Homo sapiens: one gene and its partners. The protein of the gene in region 3 purifies or fractionates together with the protein of the main gene of each other region. This does not show direct contact. Each region holds a gene or a part of one and is shown on either strand. Other genes may lie near its edges.

Region 1 (7,029 bases), on a different chromosome or scaffold from region 3:
TTCCAGTGTGTGTTTAATAGTAATTTAACAAGAAAAATAAGATCTCAGATGCTTTATCAAGCTCAGCTTCTTCTATGGAACAGAAAAACTTACCAATATTGGGGTTGAATCCTTGTGAAGAGTTATACATACCAAACTCTACCCTAACCCCATATGCTTATTACAAATTATAATTCCAAATTTTATCACCAAATCAAACTCAGAGTAATAGAAAAGAAATATTTAACACAAACTAATAATTAAAACACAAATTTCACCTATTGTTCAGGATATCTTTTTGAGAAAGGTTTTTGTTAAAGAAAATTTCAGATACAAACATAAAGAAAATTAAACAATCAATCCCCATATTCCCAGCTCTCAATAATGACCCACTCATAGCAATCTTTCAACTTACTTTTAATCCATATTTTGAATCCACAATAGTTATGATACCTACAAAGGAAAAAACATTTTAATCACTTTTTAAAAAGAATGTTTATTAATATTTGTACAACCATACTTCAAAATGAAAATTAAAACTAACCTATTTCAGTTCACAAATACTACTCAATAAAACAATGTACTGTTTTTTTCTCTTGCCAGTGCTGCCATTTAATTAAATTCCAGTAATAAGTCAATGCATTTCCTGAGTGGCTAGCACTATTTTAAGGCACTAGAAACGATATAAAACAAATAAAAATTTTAAATTAAATAAATAAGAAAATAAGATTTCCTTGGCACTGAAAAAGCTTACAATCCAAAATATAAGTCAAATTTCATAACATAGTCAAATGTGATAAGTACATAAGACAGGTTATTTCTAGTTTATTTTCACATAATCAAAATCAAGACTTTTCTTAAGATTTAAATTATTGCCTAAAGAATGAGACATCTTAAGGTATCATTCCTAACATCTCTCACCAAATCCAAATCCAACTCATAAATGTTCTACATAACATATGCCTAAGTTTCCAAACTACCAATTCATTTTGCAATCTCTGAATATATGCTGATAACAAAAGAATGAGTTTAATTATGCCTAAGGAATTCAACCAGTTACCCGCCACATATATTAGAGCTCAATGATGGGGCCCAGCTTAATAATTCTTAAATTTCTTAATGATTATTACTTTTGAAAAAGTAAGAAAATTTCGACTGAGAAAGGGAGAAAACATAGTCGCTTAACTAAGAAAGTTTCTAATATATTTTAAATGAAGGCATATCATTGCCCAAAAGTGTTCAGGTAAATAAAGTAAGACAGGAGTGTTTAATTCTTATCTTCAAGAGAAAATAAAAGCAAAAATATGATCCTCATATTGCCTGGAGGATTAAAATAAAAGGCTCTAACATTATATTAAGGGCATAAATCAAACAACAGAGGATACAGAAAACCTACAAAGCATTTTTTTTTTTAAAGAAAACCTTAGTGGAAGCACTAAATTGGAAGTTGAGTGACATCGAGTTCCACCACTGTCTGGGGTTTTTTAATCTATATGAACAAAGATTTCATCATTAAACTAAAGTGTGAAAAGAACAACAATGCAAGGAATTAAAGTTATAATATGAATGAACAACAACAATAAGCTTAACCATAAAGATTTTACTAAAAAACAAAAGAGGCAGGGTGTGGTGGCTCACGCCTGTAATCCCAGCACTTTGGGAGGCCGAGGCTGGCGGATCACCTGAAGTCAGGGGTTCAAGACCAGTCAGGCCAACATGGCGAAACCCCGTCTCTACTAAAAATCCAAAAATTAGCCAGGTACGATGGTGCACGCCTGTAGTCCCAGCTACTCGGGAGGCTGAGGCAAGAGAATCACTTGAACCCAGGAGGTAAAGGTTGCAGTGAGCCGAGATCATGCCACTGCACTCCATGCACTCCAGTCTGGGCAACAAAGTGAGACTCTGTCTCAGAAAAAAAAAAAAAAACAAGAAAGATAAAAGAAAACTGTTTTTTAACTTACCATCAAGATAAATATCACTCCCTAATTCAGCATCAACCCAAAACATAGAAGCCACTGCACCTGAAAATATATAATATTCATCAAATAAAAATATTTCTTCACACTGAGAAACATGATTCTATCCATGTTTTAATTTGCCCTGATAAAATTAACAGGTAAACACATATATCTTCTTATGGAAATTATAGTGATAGAAGCTTTAACTATTTATAGCAAAAGGGAATTATAGTGATAGAACCTTTTACTATTTATACCCATTCCATTTCCATCTCTCTTGTTATTTCCTTTAAAAAAGACCAATTCTAACCACATATAAACAAAACATCATTCTTCTACCGATGCCATAATAATTTAATTAACAGATATTATCAAACAATTTGAGCAGTATGGCTTTGTGCACATCAGACTTATTTTTATTTTCTCACCTCTTTAATATGATAATCATTCAATCATAAATAGTGAATTATCACTCTAAAGGAAAAGGAAAACAAAACATAGATAATTCCAAAATCACTTGCCCAAAAAAAATTTACTTGTAATCTGTGTAGAACTAGAAGTAAAATTATATACTCTATGGCATTACTAATTATTCCTCACACTATTTATTTAGTACTGTATAAAACCTGGGTCTTAGGAAAAATTTTTCCTAAATAATAAATTAAAACTTGCTTTTGACAGAAATTGGTTCAGTACCAAACCACATACCCTGATTAGTATGCCACAACGCAAGAAAAAGAAAACTGACAGCAAGGAAAGTATTTGATTTTTGAAAGCATCACAGGCCCAGTTAGTGACAGGGCTGTCTAAAAGAATGAGTGTAGGAGAAAAACAAGGATAATCAAACTCATTCCAGCGTCTAAAGCTGTCCACCTACTCTGCCAAGATGTGGTCCCCCAAGCATCACTCGGTGTCAACAATGAAATACCTGTCAGCTGTTTACAGTGATTACTCATGCAAGATATAGCAAGGGCCACAAGATCTAATGGTTTCCTGATACCTATTGATTTTTTTCCCAAAAACTTAATAGTTTTCCAATTTGACTCAAATAGGATTTGTGAGTAACAGGGGCTGAATCAATGTCTGTTCTTTTCAAGGAAATTACTTTACCATGACAATTATTTAACTTAGAACTGGAGCGTGTCAGTCTCCAAAACGGGAAACAACTGAATTGCCAATAAGAATTTTGTTCACTTTCTTGGCTAAAACATGATTTTAATTAATGAGGGGGGAAATTAAATCTACTGTATCACTACTCCAAACAATAAGTCATTTAAAAAAGCATGAATTTTTTCACTCAGTAAAATATCTAACATACATAAATCATTTTGTAATTTTTAAAAATTCATTGATTTTTATTCCAATAAATAGTTTACAAATCCTACTGTTAATATTTGCCTCTTAAGTTGAAATGTAAGAGTATATTAATGCTTTATTCTAAAACTGGTATTTATCTTTGATATAATACTTGCCAGACTACATGAGAAAGATCTATTTAAAATTTGGATGTAGGTATTTAGGGGGAGTAAAGATGAATGAACAAAATTGATCAGTGGCTCTCAAATCAGGGTGCTTTTCTCCCCAGGGAATATTTGGCAATGTCTGAAGATGTTTTTGGTTGTCTTAACTAGGGGAATGCTACTGGCATCTAGTGGGTAGAAGCCAGGGATGTTGTTAAATATCCTACTCTGCACAGGGCAACCCCCTCACAACAAATAATTATCCAACCCAAAATGTTATTTGTGCTGACACTGAGAAAACCTGAACTACATTTTAGAATCTCCCTTCTTCAAAATCTAATAAAACAAAAAATAAAAACAAAAAATAAAACAAAAAGGCCAACATTTTATTAGCAGCAACCAAATATAAAAGGGCCTGCCATAAATTTTGAAGACTGATAGTCAAAATAAGAAACAAAGTTATATGTGATTGATGGTCATTCCCAACTCTACCCCTACCTCCAATAAGAGGTTGTAGGGAAATAGTTTACAAAATCCTAAACACTTACCAGAAATACACTCCAAAATGACAAAAAGTAGAGCCGAGGAATGAATAAGCAACACAAGGAAAAGTCAACAAAAAAATTTCAAGAGTGAGTTTTAACCATCTCTTTGCTTTGGGAAGGAGAAGGTCAGGTCACATTCTAGGGCTCAGAACAAAGAGAAATGAGAGCTCTGAGGTCGAATGATGTCCCCATACAAGGCAAAGGAATTTTATTCATAAGCAGTTGGGCAGACCCAAGAGTGAAATACTTGGTACTTCAAGAGAGCAGAGCCTAAAAGCCACATTGCCCCATTTGGCTCTCTGAATCACCACTTTTCCCTTCTCTTTCCCTCCACTCCAACAATATACAGCTTTCAAACTAGGGCTCAGGAGAAAAACAAACTTGGGTAAGGAGAGTGGAGTATTAAAAATATTTCCCATCAGCACCACATAGAAGTTCTCCCACATCAAGAAGAAACATGTATGCATATGTATTACAGCCTGACAAAAAGAAACACGCACATACAGGGAATAAAAAGCAAGAAAGAACACAAAATGAAGAAATGAATAGGGCACACAAGTGGCAAAGAACCCATTCTGGAAGGATACATAACCCAATAAAAACTAAAGAAAATTCTCAACAACTTCATCATAATGAAGAACTTGAAAACAATACAACCTTATAATAAACAAGCTCAAAAGCAAGAAGAAGCAGAATAAGATGAAAATGCGTTTGTAGCGCTAAAGAAACTTAGAGCCTATATAACACAATGACTTAACCAATTAATTCATTTAAAATATCAAAAACAGGACAGACACTGGAGAAAACAGAATTATTGACAAAAAGAAAGGCTTCAGATGATCACAGTAAATGCAAAGGTAAAAGACAAATCAAAGCAATTAGAATACATACGAACAACAAAAGAAAATTCAGTATTAAAAAAACTGGTGTCATGAAGTAGAGGATCTAATAATTTGACCAAAAAAAAGTATTCATGGTAATAAACAAGGAAAATGTTCTTAGAAGAACTAAGGGCATACTATAATTTAGGGAAAAATGATTATAAGTGACACTTAGATATACCTTGTTTATATTACTGAATTTCAAAAATAAAGAAGAAAACTCTCAGGCATTTTAGATTAAAAAAAAAAATTGCCTTCAAGGAGGTAGGGAGAAAAATCAGACTTTTCTACAGTAACACTAGATGTCCCAAAATAATAAAACAGGGACCACAAAGTTCTAATGAAAGTGTTCCCAAACAAGTTATTTTTCAGGAACGAAAGCAATAGACAGACATTCTCAAGCATTAAAGAAAACAGCAAGCATTGAAACTCAGAGACTATAATACTCACAAATTCTTCCTAATAAAAAGAGAAAACATTGGACAAAGAAATCCAGCCAATCAAACACTAGGAGATTATGGAACAACATTTACAAAGTTGAGGGGGAATAAAGTGTGACTGATAAATTTTATACCTAGCCAAGTAATCCTTCAAGTAATATAAAAACAAAAGACAAATATTTTGAATCAATGAAGTGTATAAGAACCCAAAGAATGCATGCAGTACCTGTAACTTGAAAAGACTGCCTGACAATGAAATTCAATCAGGAGATGGACTAACTCGGGAATGGAGAAGCAACAGTACTGGTAATAAGCACCAAAACTATTAAAACATAGAACTAAAAGAATTATGACAGAACCATGACAACATAAAGAATATGATCAACATGAAACTAGGCCAATTAATATCCTACAATGGCCTGTAAGTGTTCAAGTGAAAGGAACAGTCACCTGTTTCTCACTTTAAATCAAGAGCTAGAAATGATTATGCTTAGTGAGGAAGTTATGTTGAAAGCCAAGATACGCCAAAAGCTAGGTCTCTTGAGCCAGTTAGCTAAGTTGTGAATGCAAAGGAAAAGTTCTTGAAGGAAATTAAAAGTGCTACTCCAGTAAACACACAAATGATAATAAAACAGCCTTATTGCTGATATGAAGTGGTCTGGATAGATGATCAAACAAGCCACAATGTTCCCTTAAGCCAAAGCCTAATTCAGAGCAACCCTAACTCTCTTCAGTTCTATGAAGGCTGAGAGAGGTGAGGAAGCTAGAGAAGAAAAGTTGGAAGGTAGCAGAGGTTGGTTCACAAGATTTAAAGAAAGAAGCCATCTCCATAACATAAAAGTGCAAGGGAAAGCAGCAAATGCTGATATAGAAGCTGTAGTAAACTACCTAGAAGATGTAGCTAACATCATTCATGAAAGTAGCTACACTAAGCAACAGACTTATTTTTTATTTATTTATTTATTTATTTTGAGATGGAGTCTCGCTCTGTCACCCAGGCTGGAGTGCAATGTGCAATCTCAGCTCACTGCCACCTCCGTCTCCCGGGTTCAAGCCATTCTCCTACCTCAGCCTCCCAAGTAACTGGGATTACAGGCTCCCACCACCAAGCCAGGCTAATTTTTGGTATTTTTAGCTGAGATGGGGTTTCACTATGTTGGCCAGGCTGGTCTTGAACTCCTGAACTCGTGAACTGCCCACCTCGGCCTCCCAAAGTGCTGAGATTACAGGCATGAGCCACCGAGCCCGGCCAGCAACAGATTTTTAATGGAGATGAAATGGCCTCCTTTTGGAAGAAGATGCCATTTAGGACTTTCATAGCTATAGAGAAGTCAATGCCTGGCTTCAAAGATTCAAAGGACAGGCTGACTCTCTTGTTAGAGGCTAAAGCAGCTGGTGACTTCAAGTTGAAGCCAATAATCATTTACTATCCTAAAAATTCTAGGGCCATTAAGAATTATGCTAAATCTCCTCTGCCTGTTTTCTATAAATAATAAAGCCTAGATGACAGCACATCTGTTTACAGCACGGTTTAGTTTAAGCCCACCATTGAGATCTACTGCTTAGAAAAGAAAAGATTCCTTCAAAATATTATTGCTCATTGACAACGCACCTGATCACCCAAGAGCTGTGATGGAGATGTACAAGATTAATGTTGTTTTCATGCCTGCTAACACAACATCCATTCTGCAGCCCACTGATCAAGGAGTAACTTTGACTTTTAAGTCTTATTTAAGAAATATATTTCATAAGGCTATAGCTACCAT
Region 2 (7,029 bases), on a different chromosome or scaffold from region 3:
GTAATCCCAGCTTTTTGGGAGGCTGAGGCAGGAGAATCGCTTGAACTTAGGAGGCAGAGGTTGTGGTGAGCCGAGATAGTGCCATTGCACTCCAGCCTGGGCAACAAGAGCAAAACTCTGTCTCGGGAAAAAAAAAAAGATCAAATTGTACCCTTTTTTTTTTTTTTTTTGAAACTGAGTCTTGCTCTATCGTCCAGGTTGGAGTGCAGTGGCACAATCTCAGCTCACTGCAGCCTCCACCTCCCGGGTTCAAGCAATTCTCCTGCCTCAGCCTCCCAAGTAGCTGGGATTATAGGTGCCTGCCACCACACCTGACTAATTTTTGTATTTTTTAGTAGAGATGAGGTTTCGCCATGTTGGCCAGGCTGGTCTCGAACTCCTGACCTCGGGTGATCCTCCCGCCTCGGCATCCCAAAATGCTGGGATTGCAGGCATGAGCCACCGCGCCTGGCTTTCTTTCCTTTTTTTTTTTTTTTGAGATGGAGTCTCCCTTTATTGCCCAGGCTGAGTGCAGTGGCACCATCTCGGCTCACTGCAACCTCCACCTCCCAGGTTCAAGCAATTCTCCTGCCTCAGCTTCCTGAGTAGCTGGGATTACAGGCACCCACCACCACACCCAGCTAATTTTTGTATTTTTTTAGTAGAGATGGGGTTTCGCCATATTGGTCAGGCTGGTCTCAAACTCCTGGCCCCAAGTGATCTGCCTGCCTCAGCCTCCCAAAGTGCTGGGATTACAGGTGTGAGCCAGCGAGCCACCAGGCCTAGCCTTTTTCTTTTCTTTTTTTTTTTTTTTTTTTTTTTTGAGACAGGGTCTCGCTCTGTCACCCAGGCTGGAGTACAGTGGCACAACCACCTCCCGGGTTCAAGCGATTCTACCACCTCAGCCTCCCAAGCAGCTAGGATTACAGGCATGAGCCACTGCACCCAGCTAATTATTTTGTCTTTGTTTTTTTGGTTTTTTTTGAGACAGAGTCTTGCTCTGTAGCACAGGCTGGAGTGCAGTGGCACGATCTCACTCACTGCTACCTCCTCCTGGGTTCCGGTTCAAGGAATTCTCCTGCCTCAGCCTCCTGAATAGCTGGGATTACAGGCATGTGCCACCATGCCCAGCTAATTTTTGTATTTTTAGTAGAGACGGGGTTTCATCATGTTGGCCAGGCTGGTCTGGAACTCCTGACCTCGTGATCCACCCACCTTGGCCTCCCAAAGTGCTGGGATTACAGGCGTGAGCCACCATGCCCAGCCTAATTATTTTGTATTTTTGCTAGAGATGGGGTTTTGCCATGTTGGCCAGGCTGGTCTCAAACTCCTGGCCTCAAGTAATCTGCCCGCCTCAGCCTCCCAAATTCTGGGATTACAGGCATGAGCCACCGTGCCCAGCCCAAATCGTACTTTTAAAGACGTAAATTATAATAACTACAATGTCTGAGATGAAAATTGCACTCTATAAGAATAATGGTAAAGTAGACAATACGGAAGAAAATAGTCAACTTGAAGATAGCAATAGAACCTGTCCAGCTCTCCCTCTCCCTCTCCCCCTCCCCCTCTCCCTCCTCTTTCCACGGTCTCCCTCTGATGCCGAGCCGAAGCTGGACTGTACTGCTGCCATCTCGGCTCACTGCAACCTCCCTGCCTGATTCTCCTGCCTCAGCCTGCCGAGTGCCTGCGATTGCAGGCGCGCGCCGCCACGCCTGACTGGTTTTCGTATTTTTTGGGTGGAGACGGGGTTTCGCTGTGTTGGCCGGGCTGGTCTCCAGCTCCTAACCGCGAGTGATCCGCCAGCCTCGGCCTCCCGAGGTGCCGGGATTGCAGGAGTCTCCTTCACTCAGTGCTCAATGGTGCCCAGGCTGGAGTGCAGTGGCGTGATCTCGGCTCGCTACAACATCCACCTCCCAGCAGCCTGCCTTGGCCTCCCAAAGTGCCGAGATTGCAGCCTCTGCCCGGCCGCCACCCTGTCTGGGAAGTGAGGAGCGTCTCTGCCTGGCCGCCCATTGTCTGGGATGTGAGGAGCCCCTCTGCCTGGCTGCCCAGTCTGGAAAGTGAGGAGCATCTCTGCCCGGCCGCCATCCCATCTAGGAAATGAGGAGCGCCTCTTCCCGGCCGCCATCCCATCTAGGAAGTGAGGAGCGTCTCTGCCCGGCCACCCATCGTCTGAGATGTGGGGAGCGCCTCTGCCCTGTCGCCCCGTCCGGGATGTGAGGAGCGTCTCTGCCCGGCCACCCCGTCTGAGAAGTGAGGAGCGTCTCTGCCCGGCCACCCCGTCTGAGAAGTGAGGAGACCCTCTGCCTGGCAACCGCCCTGTCTGAGAAGTGAGGAGCCCCTCCGCCCAGCAGCCACCCCGTCTGAGAAGTGAGGAGCCCCTCCGCCCGGCAGCCACCCCGTCTGGGAAGTGAGGAGCGTCTCCACCCGGCAGCCACCCCGTCCGGGAGGGAGGTGGGGGGGTCAGCCCCCCACCTGGCCAGCCGCCCCGTCCGGGAGGTCAGGGGCGCCTCTGCCCGGCCGCCCCTACTGGGAAGTGAGGAGCCCCTCTGCCTGGCCAGCCGCCCCGTCCGGGAGGGAGATGGGAGCGTCAGCCCCCCGCCCGGCCAGCCGCCCCGTCCGGGAGGTGAGGGGCGCCTCTGCCCGGCCGCCCCTACTGGGAAGTGAGGAGCCCCTCTGCCCGGCCACCACCCCGTCTGGGAGGTGTACCCAACAGCTCATTGAGAACGGGCCATGATGACAATGGCAGTTTTGTGGAATAGAAAGGGGGGAAAGGTGGGGAAAAGATTGAGAAATCGGATGGTTGCCGTGTCTGTGTAGAAAGAGGTAGACATGGGAGACTTTTCATTTTGTTCTGTACTAAGAAAAATTCTTCTGCCTTGGGATCCTGTTGATCTGTGACCTTACCCCCAACCCTGTGCTCTCTGAAACATGTGCTGTGTCCACTCAGGGTTAAATGGATTAAGGGCGGTGCAAGATGTGCTTTGTTAAACAGACGCTTGAAGGCAGCATGCTCGTTAAGAGTCATCACCACTCCCTAATCTCAAGTACCCAGGGACACAAACACTGCGGAAGGCCGCAGGGTCCTCTGCCTAGGAAAACCAGAGACCTTTGTTCACTTGTTTATCTGCTGACCTTCCCTCCACTATTGTCCTGTGACCCTGCCAAATCCCCCTCTGCGAGAAACACCCAAGAATGATCAATAAAAAAATAAATAAATAAATAAATAAATAAATAAAAAGAACCTATCCAAAATGAAACACACAGGAAAAAAAAAAAGAATGGAAAGAAATTAAGAGCATCAGTGGGCCGTAGGACAATTTCAAGTGGTCTAATGTACAGTAACTGGAGTACTGGCAAGAGAAGAGAGTGGAGGAACAGAAAAATATTTGAAGAAATTATAGCCAAAAACTTTCCAAACTTGGTGAAAACTATAAATCCATAGATCTAAGAAGCTCAACAAAACCCAAACTCAATGAACTACAACAAAGCACATCACAATCAAATTGCTCAAAACCAGTGACAAAGAAAAAAATCTTTAAAGCAGCCAGAGGAAAAAAAACAAAACATCATGTAGAGAGGAACAAAGGATAACAACAGGTTTCTCACTGGAAACAAAGCAAGCAAGAGTGCGACTCCATCTCAAAAAAAAAGAAAAAAATGATTTTGGCTGGGCATGGTGGCTCACGCCTGTACTCCCAGCACTTAGGGAGACCGAGGCAGGTGGATGACTTGAGGTCAGGAGTTCCAGAACAGCCTAGCCAACATGGTGAAACCCTGTATCTACTAAAAATACAAAAAAAAAAATTAGCCTGGCATGGTAGCGGGCGCCCGTAATCCCAGCTGCTCGGGAGGCCGAGGCAAGAGAATCGCTTGAACCCAGGAGGTGGAGGTTGCAGTGACCTGAGATAGTGCCACTGCACTCCAGCCTGGGCTACAGAGCGAGACTCCATCTCAAAAAAAAAAAAAATAATAAGTGAAATAAATACTTCTTCACTTCTTCAGACATACAAAAGATAAAAGAATTCATTACCAGCGAACCCACATGACAAAAATCTTCAAGGAACTCCTTCAGGCAGAAGAAAAATGTTAACAGATGGAAATATGGATCCACATAAAGAAATAGAGAAACCAAAATGGTAACTACATGGATAAATATACACAATTCTTTCCAAAAATCTAGCTATAAAGGGGGCGAGGAAGGTAGGGTAGATTCGCTACAGGCAAGGAAGACTAAGGGAGGTTTCTATTTTGCTATTTGGAACATAGGAGCAATCTGAGGATACACAAAGCTGATGAGAAAGCAGGTAAGAAGGGGCTGGGCGCGTGGCTCACACCTGTAATCCCAGTACTTTGGGAGGCCAAGGAGGGCGGATCCCTTGAGGTCAGGAGTTCGAGACCAGCTTGGCCAACATGTTGAAATCCCGTCTGTACTAAAAATACAAAAATTAGCCAGATGTGGCGGCATGCACCGGTAATCCCAGCTACTTGGGAGGCTGAGGCAGGAGAATCACTTGAACCTGGGAGGCAGAGGCTGCAGTGAGCCGAGAATCACGCCACTGCACTCCAGCCTGGGTGACAGAGCAAGGCTCTGTATCCAAAAAAAAAAAAAAAAAGGCAGGTAAGAAGGGAGAGGTGGCAATGGAGGTTACATAGGACAGAGTTTAAGGCTTGGGCAGCAAAGTGAGTCTTTAGCAGAAGGTCAAGCACTTCTGTGACTACAATCCAGAGAAGCGGCTGGGTGCCTGGGAAGGGAGCTTTGCCAAATTGGTGGAGGGGCGGGATCACATTGGCGGTATTTCTATAGCCTTTTATTTCTATAGCCTTTGGTTAATGAGTGTGTATTGCCTGTATGATCAGAAGAAAAAACAAACACACATGTTTTCTGTGTCAGCCACAAGACAAAGCAGGAAATGAAGCCAGAGAGGCTAAGAGTCTGGAAAAGAAAGGATGCCAGGTTTGGGGTCCAACCCAACTCCCAAACACCACAGTTCTTCAGAGATTTGCTCTTGCTACCTAATCAACATTCTAGATTCCACAAGTAAATGAAGAATGCCAAAACGAAGAACCTCAGGATAAAAAAATCAGGGCACAAATTTTAATCTGGTTCTCTCTGATGACCCTCAGATAGCCCCTGCACAAAATCAAAAGGGAATGTAAGTGGTGCATGGAGCTGGTATTTTAAGTTCAAGAGTGTTGTCCCCTCCATCCCCCTGCACATTGTAAAAATATTTAAGTACACAGTACAGATTAGGAACAAAAAAATCTTATGCCTTCAGGTACCAACGTTTTCATTTAGGAATTAGGAAGAAAAGAAACACTGAATTATTCCACACGAAAATAAAAATGTCATACTATGTGACAGTCATTGAACCCTCCCTTGGTAATGTGCTTTTATTTTTTATTTTCTTTGAGACAGAGTCTTGCTCTGTTGTCCGGGCTGGAGTGCAGTGGCACGATCTCAGCTCACTGCAGCCTCCATCTCCTGGGTTCAAGCAATTCTCCTGCCTTAGCCTCCCAAATAGCTGGGATTACAGATGCGCACCACCACACCTGGCTACTTTTTTTATTTTTAGTAGAGATGGGGTTTCACCATGTTGGCCAGGCTGGTCTCAAACTTCTGGCCTCAAATGATCCAGCCACCTCGGCCTCCCAGTGTGCTGGGATTACAGGCGTGAGCCACTGCACCCGACTGGTAATGTGCCTTTTAAGAGACTGCAGTTTGAGCTATACATAAAGTGATAATTATTGCATCACTGGCAGCAAAGAAGTTGTCTGAAGGACAAGTGTGAGGGCACCATGCCAATTCTGCCAGGGAGCCCTAGCCTAGGTCAGCACCTTCACACCCTTCCAGCTTTTCTCAGAAGGCTCTTTACCAGCTGCAGGTGTTTTCACAATGGCTTCTGGCAGGAAAGGCAAATGAGGAGGGACCAAAAACAGTCAAGGGTTGGAGGGACAGCAATCCATACTTTCCATAGGCAATACTGTGTGCTCATTTAGCAAATGGAGACAATACCACCAAAATGTAGAAAATTATGAGGCTACTGTGAAGATTAAATGAGAAAAGATGTGTATGGTCCCTGCCACAGGTTAAACACTCCATAAATGGCTGTGGTGATGATGATGATTATGATGAGTGGTGTTTACAATTCAAAGAGATGGAAAGGCACAATAACTAAGTTCTATTAATTAACCTGCACACTGGGCTTGCTGGTTCATACCTGTAATCCTAACACTTTGGGAGGCCAAGGCAGGCAGATTACTTGAGGTCAGGAATTCAAGACCAGCCTGGCCAACATGGTGAAACCCCATCTCTACTAAAAAATACAAAAATTAGGCCAGGCGCAGTGGCTCACGCCTGTAATCCCAGCACTTTGGGAGGTCAAGGCGGGCAGATCACCTGAGGTCAGGAGTTCGAGACCAGCCTGGCCAACATGGCGAAACCCCATCTCTACTAAAAATACCAAAAATTAGCCGGGGTGTAGTGACGGGTGCCTGTAATCCCAGCTACTCAGGAAGCTGAGACAAGAGAATCGCTTGAACCCGGGAGGCAGAGGTTGCAATGAGCCAAGATCGCACCATTGCTCCAGCCTGAGCAACAAGAGCAAAACTCCATCTCAAAAAAAAAAAAAAAAATTAGCCAGGCATGGTGGCGCATGCCTGTAATCCCAGCTACTCGGGAGGCTGAGGCAGGAGAATCATTTGAACCCAGGAGGTGGAGGTTGCAGTGAGCCAAGATGGTGCCACTGCACTCCAGCCTGGGTGACAAGAGCAAGACTCCTTCTCAAAAAGAAAAAAAAAAATTTCACCTGCTAAACACATTCACAATCCATCTACTTTCCCCATCCCAACTAACACTTCTCAGCAAAGGCCACAGCCAATTCTTGTCTGGGCAACTACTGTAGCCACCTAAACTGGTCTCCCTGGTCAGCCTGCTATCCCCCCTCCAGACCCTGACCTTCACAGCAATACAAGTGAAACTGAAAGATAAAAGGCATATCTGATCATGTCACTCCCCTGCTAAAACTCTTTCAGTGGCTTCCCCTACCC
Region 3 (7,029 bases):
AGGGGGAAGAATGTACAGAACTTGAGGACAGATTGTATATGTGAGTGAGAAGGTAGGTCAAAGTCATGTTTAGGCTTAAAAATTTGAGTAGATGGAAGTATCATTTAGTGAGATAAGAAAACCAGAAAAAAGTTTGGAGAACGTTTAGTTTTCCTTGACAGAGGTATCATGTTCTAACAGAAATGGCCACAGGCAGTATGCCCTGCCTTCCACATGGCCTTCCTAAACCGGTAAGTTCCTGAGGCTAGAAGCACTATCTTTATTAAGACTTAAGGCCCACCTCTGTCTCAAAACTTATCATGATATTTTGCACATTGCAATTGATCAATAAGATTTATTTTTTTATTCTGGTTTTCTACATTATTACTTCTACCAAATTGGAATTGAAACAATTAATAAACTATAGTGGAAAAAGTATTGAAAATTTATGTTAAAATATTTTTACCTCATCTACCATTTATTTACTTACACAATTATGTATTTAGTATTCATTTATTTCATAGCTAGTATTTATTTAAATGAATAATCAAAAAATAATTATTATAGTTATATATGATTATATAATAATGCTGTAGATTTTAAACAGATTCTGGGGTACTACATATAAATATTTTATTTTATAATAAATAATTCTAACATTTATAATTTAATAGATTTAATAGAATAATATGTATCGTATTATTTGAAAGAATGTGACTTTTTAAATAGTTATTTTGAATATTGGATATTTTATTTTGAAGATTCATAGTTTTACATTTATAAGCTTCAGTATTAGTAAGCATTAATGTTAAGAAACTATTTTATAGAGCAAAGTAGTATTTGCTCAAGAGAAGAAATTTAGAGAATGGTTGCAGACATTGGGCAAATCAGCCAATTTTCTTTATACCTTTGTCCAATACTTAAAAATTTATGAGAGGGAGAGAGACAGGGAAAGAGAAAAAGAGACAGAGAGTGATAATATGGTAGAAAAAAAAGAAAACAAAACTGGTGACTCTAACTGACAGATATGTAAGAGTTTACCGTATCAGTCTTTCAGTTTTCCATGGGTTCTACATTATTCAAAATGAAAGTAAATATGTTTGATACAATGGTTTTCTGAAATGACTTTGCATATTCAAGTTCTTCAGCAGGTTTTAGTTCCTGAGAGAATATTTTGGATATGTAAGCAGCAAAAATCAGTCCAAATGCAAATACAAAAAAAGAAATGATACAGTTTGCAATGTTAATTGTTTAACAAATAGTAATAATTATCACTGGACATCTAATTCAGTTGTGGATAATAAGATACTGAGGTTTAAAAGATGCACCACTATGACATGACCCACCACTTTAAAGGATATTAAGTTTAATTCAGTGATTCCGAATATTTTGTTTATATCTTTGTAGTTTCAGTTCTACTGGAAATTCACTTTTACTGTTATAGTAAATATTTCTTTCATAAATTTCAATATTTATGAATTTCAAATATATATGATATATCAGTATTTTAGATAAAAGTAAGGTACCACCACCTTGGAATAAGACTACTGACAGCTAGTAAGAAAGAATAATCATATTTAGACTATATATTATACACATATTATTTATGCATTTATTATGTATTATATGCATTAGTATACATTAGTATATATGTAACATATTTTTGATGTATTTTATTTCTGCACAGATTGTCAAGGCCATTGAGGATTTGCAAATAAACTTGTATCATGATGTGGTCTTCACAGTTATTTTTTTTTTTTTTTGTGAGAAAGAATTTAAGAGTAGGACCTATACTAAATATCTGCTTTTCAAATAGATATTTCAATATTTATGACTTATTTTTTATGAAAAAAACCATAAATACTTAATTAAACACCATGTTTTAAACATAAAGTCATGTTTTTAATTTTGTATTGTTTTTAATGTTTTGTTTTTTTGTGTTCTTCATTCTCTTTTATTTCTCTCTTTTATATAAAATCACTCTCCCATGGTCCAGAAAATATGGTGCATTGATGTTCTCATCTCTTTAGTTGGCCAGTTAGCCTCTTGGTTATGAATATTAAATTCTGGACTATTTTGCATTTCCCCACACTATAGAAAAAGTGATAAATTCATTATTAGTTTAATAATTTCTATCCTCTTTCATTGGAACTTGTGATTTCTCTTTCTTGGCAGTATATCTAAGTTTAGCTGTTCACCTCACTTGTCACCTCAAAATATCCTAACACTACATCGTAACAAACAAACTCTATTTACTAAACCATCTCTGACACATGGATTAATATGGTTATAACCCAAACCAAATAAAGCAACCAATTAAGGTAATTCAGTAATAATTTATAAATTAGTACTCATGAAAATATGAATTAAATGTACAATGATCTACTTTTGTGACAAACCAGGTAATGAAGCTCTTCTGATGGTGAATATTGAGTTTAATTACCACTTGTCCTAAAGATGGCTAGAAGCTTACATGCTTGCCTTAGGCATTCTATTATGACTTTTCTCCCTGTCATGTAACTTGTGAAAAAAGTTCTTAAACACTATTTCAGTATAACTTTATTGGGATATCTCAATTTGTTCATTACAAAATATCTTTATAAAGTTCTTACAAATACAATGATTTTAGGATATCACCAAAATTAACTTAATTTGGGGTAAGATTGACATTCCTATGTGTTAACAAACTTTCAGAAAAAAATTATTTCTGTACAGAAGTGGGGAACATGTTCCCAAAGTCAGAAGTAGAAAAAACAGAAATAATTAAACCCCCGAATTATGTGATAATTACCTCATAATTACCTGGTAATATTGTTAGGTAGTTCTCTGCACAAAATTAAAGAAAACCTTTCTATCTTCCCATATGTTAAAATGCATAACAATGTGAAATGATGGATATGTTAAATTGTTCCACTACTGTAACCATATTACATCATGCTATACGCCTTAAATATACACAATATAGTTTTTTTTTTTTTTAATGAGGGGATATGAAGACTATGAAACAAGCTCAACACATTTGATAAAGAAAGTGATAAGAAAGTGGTTCTGGGTAATTCACCTATTGAAAAATTACAGAATTGTAGAACAGGACCTCAAATGCCATCTAGGTCAACTGTATCCTACTTTTAAAACACTTTGTGTATTACAAAAATCACATGTGTGAGTACAAAACATTTGTTTAATTTTAAGGTGTATAATGGCATGGCTTCATACCAGTATAAAATATAACTTAAAACTTTACCACATGTCCTTACCATATGGTAGGCACTATTCTAGGGATTTTACAAATATTAACTCACTCTATTTTTATAATAGACTGATGAGGTGACCTCTATAATAGTTTAGGAATCTGACGCACAAAAGAAGTTAAGTAACTTGCCTAAAGTCAAACATCTATAGCGTTAGTAGAAGGGCTGGGTGTTTTTGTTTTGTTTTTGTTTTTGTGTTTTTTTGAGACAGAGCCTCCCTCTGTTACCCAGGCTGGAGTGCAGTGGAGTCATCTAAGCTCACCGCAACCCCTGTCTCCCAGGTTCGAGAAATTCTCGTGCTTCAGCATCTAGAATAGCCAGGATTACAGATGTGTGCCACCCTGCCTGGCTAATTTTTGTATATTTTTAGTAGAGAAAGGGTTTCACCATGTTGTCCAGGCTGGTCTTGAACTCCCAACCTCAGGTGATCCGCCCTCCTCGGCCTCCCAAAGTGCTGGGATTATAGGCGTGAGCTACCGTGCCTGGCCAGGGCTAGAATTTTAACATCAGCGGTTTGGCTCTAGAGTCCATTTTTTTAACCACTATGAATATTGTCTCTTGACGTTATATATCCTAATTTGCTATATTGGTTGTTGGGTTTGGAGAAAATCTGATTTCATTTTCAAAGAACTGTTTTCCAAGTTATTTATTAGGATGAAATAAGTACTGTTTGAATTTTTTCAATAATATTCTTGTTCACATCTACATTTGTTAATAAGAGAACTTCATTTAGATGGTGTGACTGAAGTTTTATTCAATTAAGAAACACATCCTTTCAGATGATATATGTAATATGGACTTGAGTAGTGGTTTGAATAATTTATTCTGTCTTTATGAAATGAAAAATTACTCATTTAAATTAAGAAATTATATATTCTAAAAATAATGATTAAATTTTGCCCGTTTAAATGTATATGATAAGCAAAATAAAAATAGTGTGTTTAACAAAGACGAGTAATATTTTTTAGTCACAGGATTATTATACTATACCACTACACATAAGAATAATTGTGTTTATAAATGAAAGTAAGCTATATTTTAAAATAAATTGTATAGTTCTCATAAGAAAAAATATATAAAATATTTTTTCAGCAAATTTGAAAGTTAGGAGTTGAATCATTTGACAATGGTACATTTATATAGATAATAGAAAAAAGCCTAGAATCTCCAAGCTCCTATTCCAAAATTCTTCTATTATAATATTCCTTCTTATAGAAAATCATTTTTAAAATGTCTTCACTTGTAAGGCTTCCCATGTTGTTTACAAAAGACGGTACGCTTTAATCCCCTCAGTGAGCAACTCATATGATTGAGGCAACTCATACAGTATGTGAGGAATGTCCTTTTATGGATATCGTGATATTAAGAGTTCACTCATTGTATCACTGCTTTGAGCTACTTCAGAGCCCCAAAATTATTTCTCTATATCTCTCAGATAGAAATAGTTTAGGATTAAATACAAATAATGGGGTTATAGCTAGGAAAGTACATTAAAACCACCAGTGTTCTTATTCAAATACCAGAGAAATATGGTAGCTACTATTACTGATATATCTTAATACTGTAAATCTTAATCTTTTTTTCTAAAGATGTTTTGCTGAGTAAGAACTCATGCAAGTAAACCTTTCTCATTAGTCAGAATCTTTGCACTCTGTAGTGCTATGTGCTATGAATAATACAGTTTGAAAAGCTGATGAGGATAGAAAGAAAAATTGAATTCAAATATTTTTAGAATTTTCTGGTGTAGCATATAGACATTGCATCAGCAGCTTTGCATAAAGTGTCTTACACTGTACCATACTGGGATTATACGTCTTATTACTTTTTTTTGAATGATTATACTACAATGTATGCAGTTTCAAAGTCTATGAATAGTCTGCATTAGCTTAATTTATGTGCATATAATTTTGGAGGTATGACTTTCTTATGAATAAGACAGATGCACATTTAAATCTTTAAAGACCCTAGAAATAATGTAATTATGATTTTGTTTAAATAATCAGATATGCAGTTTTTTCCTAACAGAATAATGAAAAAAAATCTGGGAAAAGACATTACTCCTCACATCCACTCTCACACACACACATCTGTTCATGTATCAGTCTGTCTTTCTATCATCTCTCTGTCTCACTCTGTGTCTGTCTCTATATCTATATATATCTATAATAGGTATACACACATATACACACATATACATACATATATTTATGTATTCTTAAATCCACAGTTTTACTCCGTGTTTATGTAGATTATGGAAATAACTACATGAATATCTTTGCTTCATTTAAAGCATTTATTTAAGATAAATATACAATAAAATTAAATCTAGTATTAAAATTTGTAACACAATTTATGAAATATATGAAATACTTGAACTTATTAATTATTTATTTGCATCAGTCCAACTTTATAAAACATTCAACTTCTGATTTTTGCTCAATAGGCTTTAATGATCCACTGAATAAAATTGTTATGACAAAGTCTGTTATGACTCAATGTCTTATTTTCCATTAATATAAAAAAGGAACAAAGTATAAAAGATATACAGCTCTAAAAAAATAATTTTGGTTTGTATTTTATTATCTGCTGATAATACTAATTTAAAACAATGATATTAGATTAAAATTTAAAATTAGCCACCTCAACACCTTAACTGAGAGAAAGGAATCTTCTAGGAGTTAACTAATTGCCTGTGTATTTTGTCTAGGTGTTGAGGGAAAGCTGAGAGAATGAAGGCTCTAAATCCCCAGTGGAAGCATGATATGGCGAAGCAGAGCTGGTGCTGAATTGTTCTCTCTGATGGCTCTATGGGAGTGGATAGCACTGAGTCTTCATTGCTGGGTTTTAGCGGTTGCTGCTGTTTCGGATCAGCATGCCACAAGCCCCTTCGACTGGCTCCTCTCTGATAAGGGACCCTTCCATCGCTCACAGGAATACACAGATTTTGTGGACAGAAGCCGGCAGGGATTTAGCACAAGATACAAGATATACAGGTATGAAGCAAAGGGAAAGCAATTACAGAAATATCATCCTTGAAGGTTGTGTATACATAAGTTTCTCTAAGGGAAAGTTTCAGACGGGAAAAAGGTATTATCAGAAGGGTTGTTATTTACCATGCACCATAGTAATGTTTTCTTGCTATTCAAAGTATTTCTTATAGATGTAATATATTATGATAAAAACAGATAATGGTGACCACTTGTCTATCACTCCCAAATTTAAGCATGCTACACTGCCTTAAAGTAAATGGCAATGTATTTGGAAGCCGAGTTTCTTATTTTAAATAGCCAAAATTTTAAAGTGAAATTTAAAAAATTGCTTTTCCTTTCTACCTTATACAATGCTATGTTACCTTTTTCAGCCTAAATGGAAATGGTATCTTCTACTAGTCACTGAGAAGTTGAGTCACCTCATCCTTTTTTACCTGAAAGGTAATTGTACGTTCAGAAGCTAAAGGAAACAGCAATGGAATAAAAACAAGTAGCAGATAAATAGGACATGATAGCAAAGATCAAAGAAATGGATGGGATAAAGATATATGATCTTTAACATCTATCAATGTTCTATGTTTAAAATCTAAATAAGTTACACAAAAAGAGTAATATATTAAATTCAACAAAGGTTGCCTGTTCACCTGATGTCCCGTGAATACATTAAGTAGAAGAGTGTACAAGTGGTTGCCTGATGGATTAGATTATATTGATCTATGCCATGAAGAACATTTTATGTGAAGCTATCACTTCAATTTGTTTATTGGTGATAGACTTTTACAATTCCTAGTTAATGGTTTAACATTTAT

What was found.
Region 1: the proteins of BRINP3 (region 3) and ZNG1A purify together in Homo sapiens (affinity purification with mass spectrometry; 2 studies listed by BioGRID and IntAct, with this or other methods). This does not show direct contact.
Region 2: the proteins of BRINP3 (region 3) and TXNDC15 purify together in Homo sapiens (affinity purification with mass spectrometry; 2 studies listed by BioGRID and IntAct, with this or other methods). This does not show direct contact.

Annotation. Positions count from the first base shown.
Region 1 is NC_000009.12:162,038-169,066, forward strand, and holds part of ZNG1A (zinc-regulated GTPase metalloprotein activator 1A), read right to left. Parts: intron 2,412-7,029; exon of another isoform or gene 2,366-2,411; intron 2,001-2,365; coding exon 1,941-2,000; intron 433-1,940; coding exon 395-432; intron 1-394. UniProt on the Homo sapiens protein: Zinc chaperone that directly transfers zinc cofactor to target metalloproteins, thereby activating them.
Region 2 is NC_000005.10:134,877,361-134,884,389, reverse strand, and holds part of TXNDC15 (thioredoxin domain-containing protein 15 isoform 1 precursor), read right to left. Parts: intron 1-7,029. UniProt on the Homo sapiens protein: Acts as a positive regulator of ciliary hedgehog signaling. Involved in ciliogenesis.
Region 3 is NC_000001.11:190,453,849-190,460,877, reverse strand, and holds part of BRINP3 (BMP/retinoic acid-inducible neural-specific protein 3 isoform 1 precursor), read left to right. Parts: intron 1-5,937; 5' UTR 5,938-5,987; coding exon 5,988-6,223; intron 6,224-7,029. UniProt on the Homo sapiens protein: Inhibits neuronal cell proliferation by negative regulation of the cell cycle transition. Promotes pituitary gonadotrope cell proliferation, migration and invasion, when overexpressed. May play a role in cell pituitary tumor development.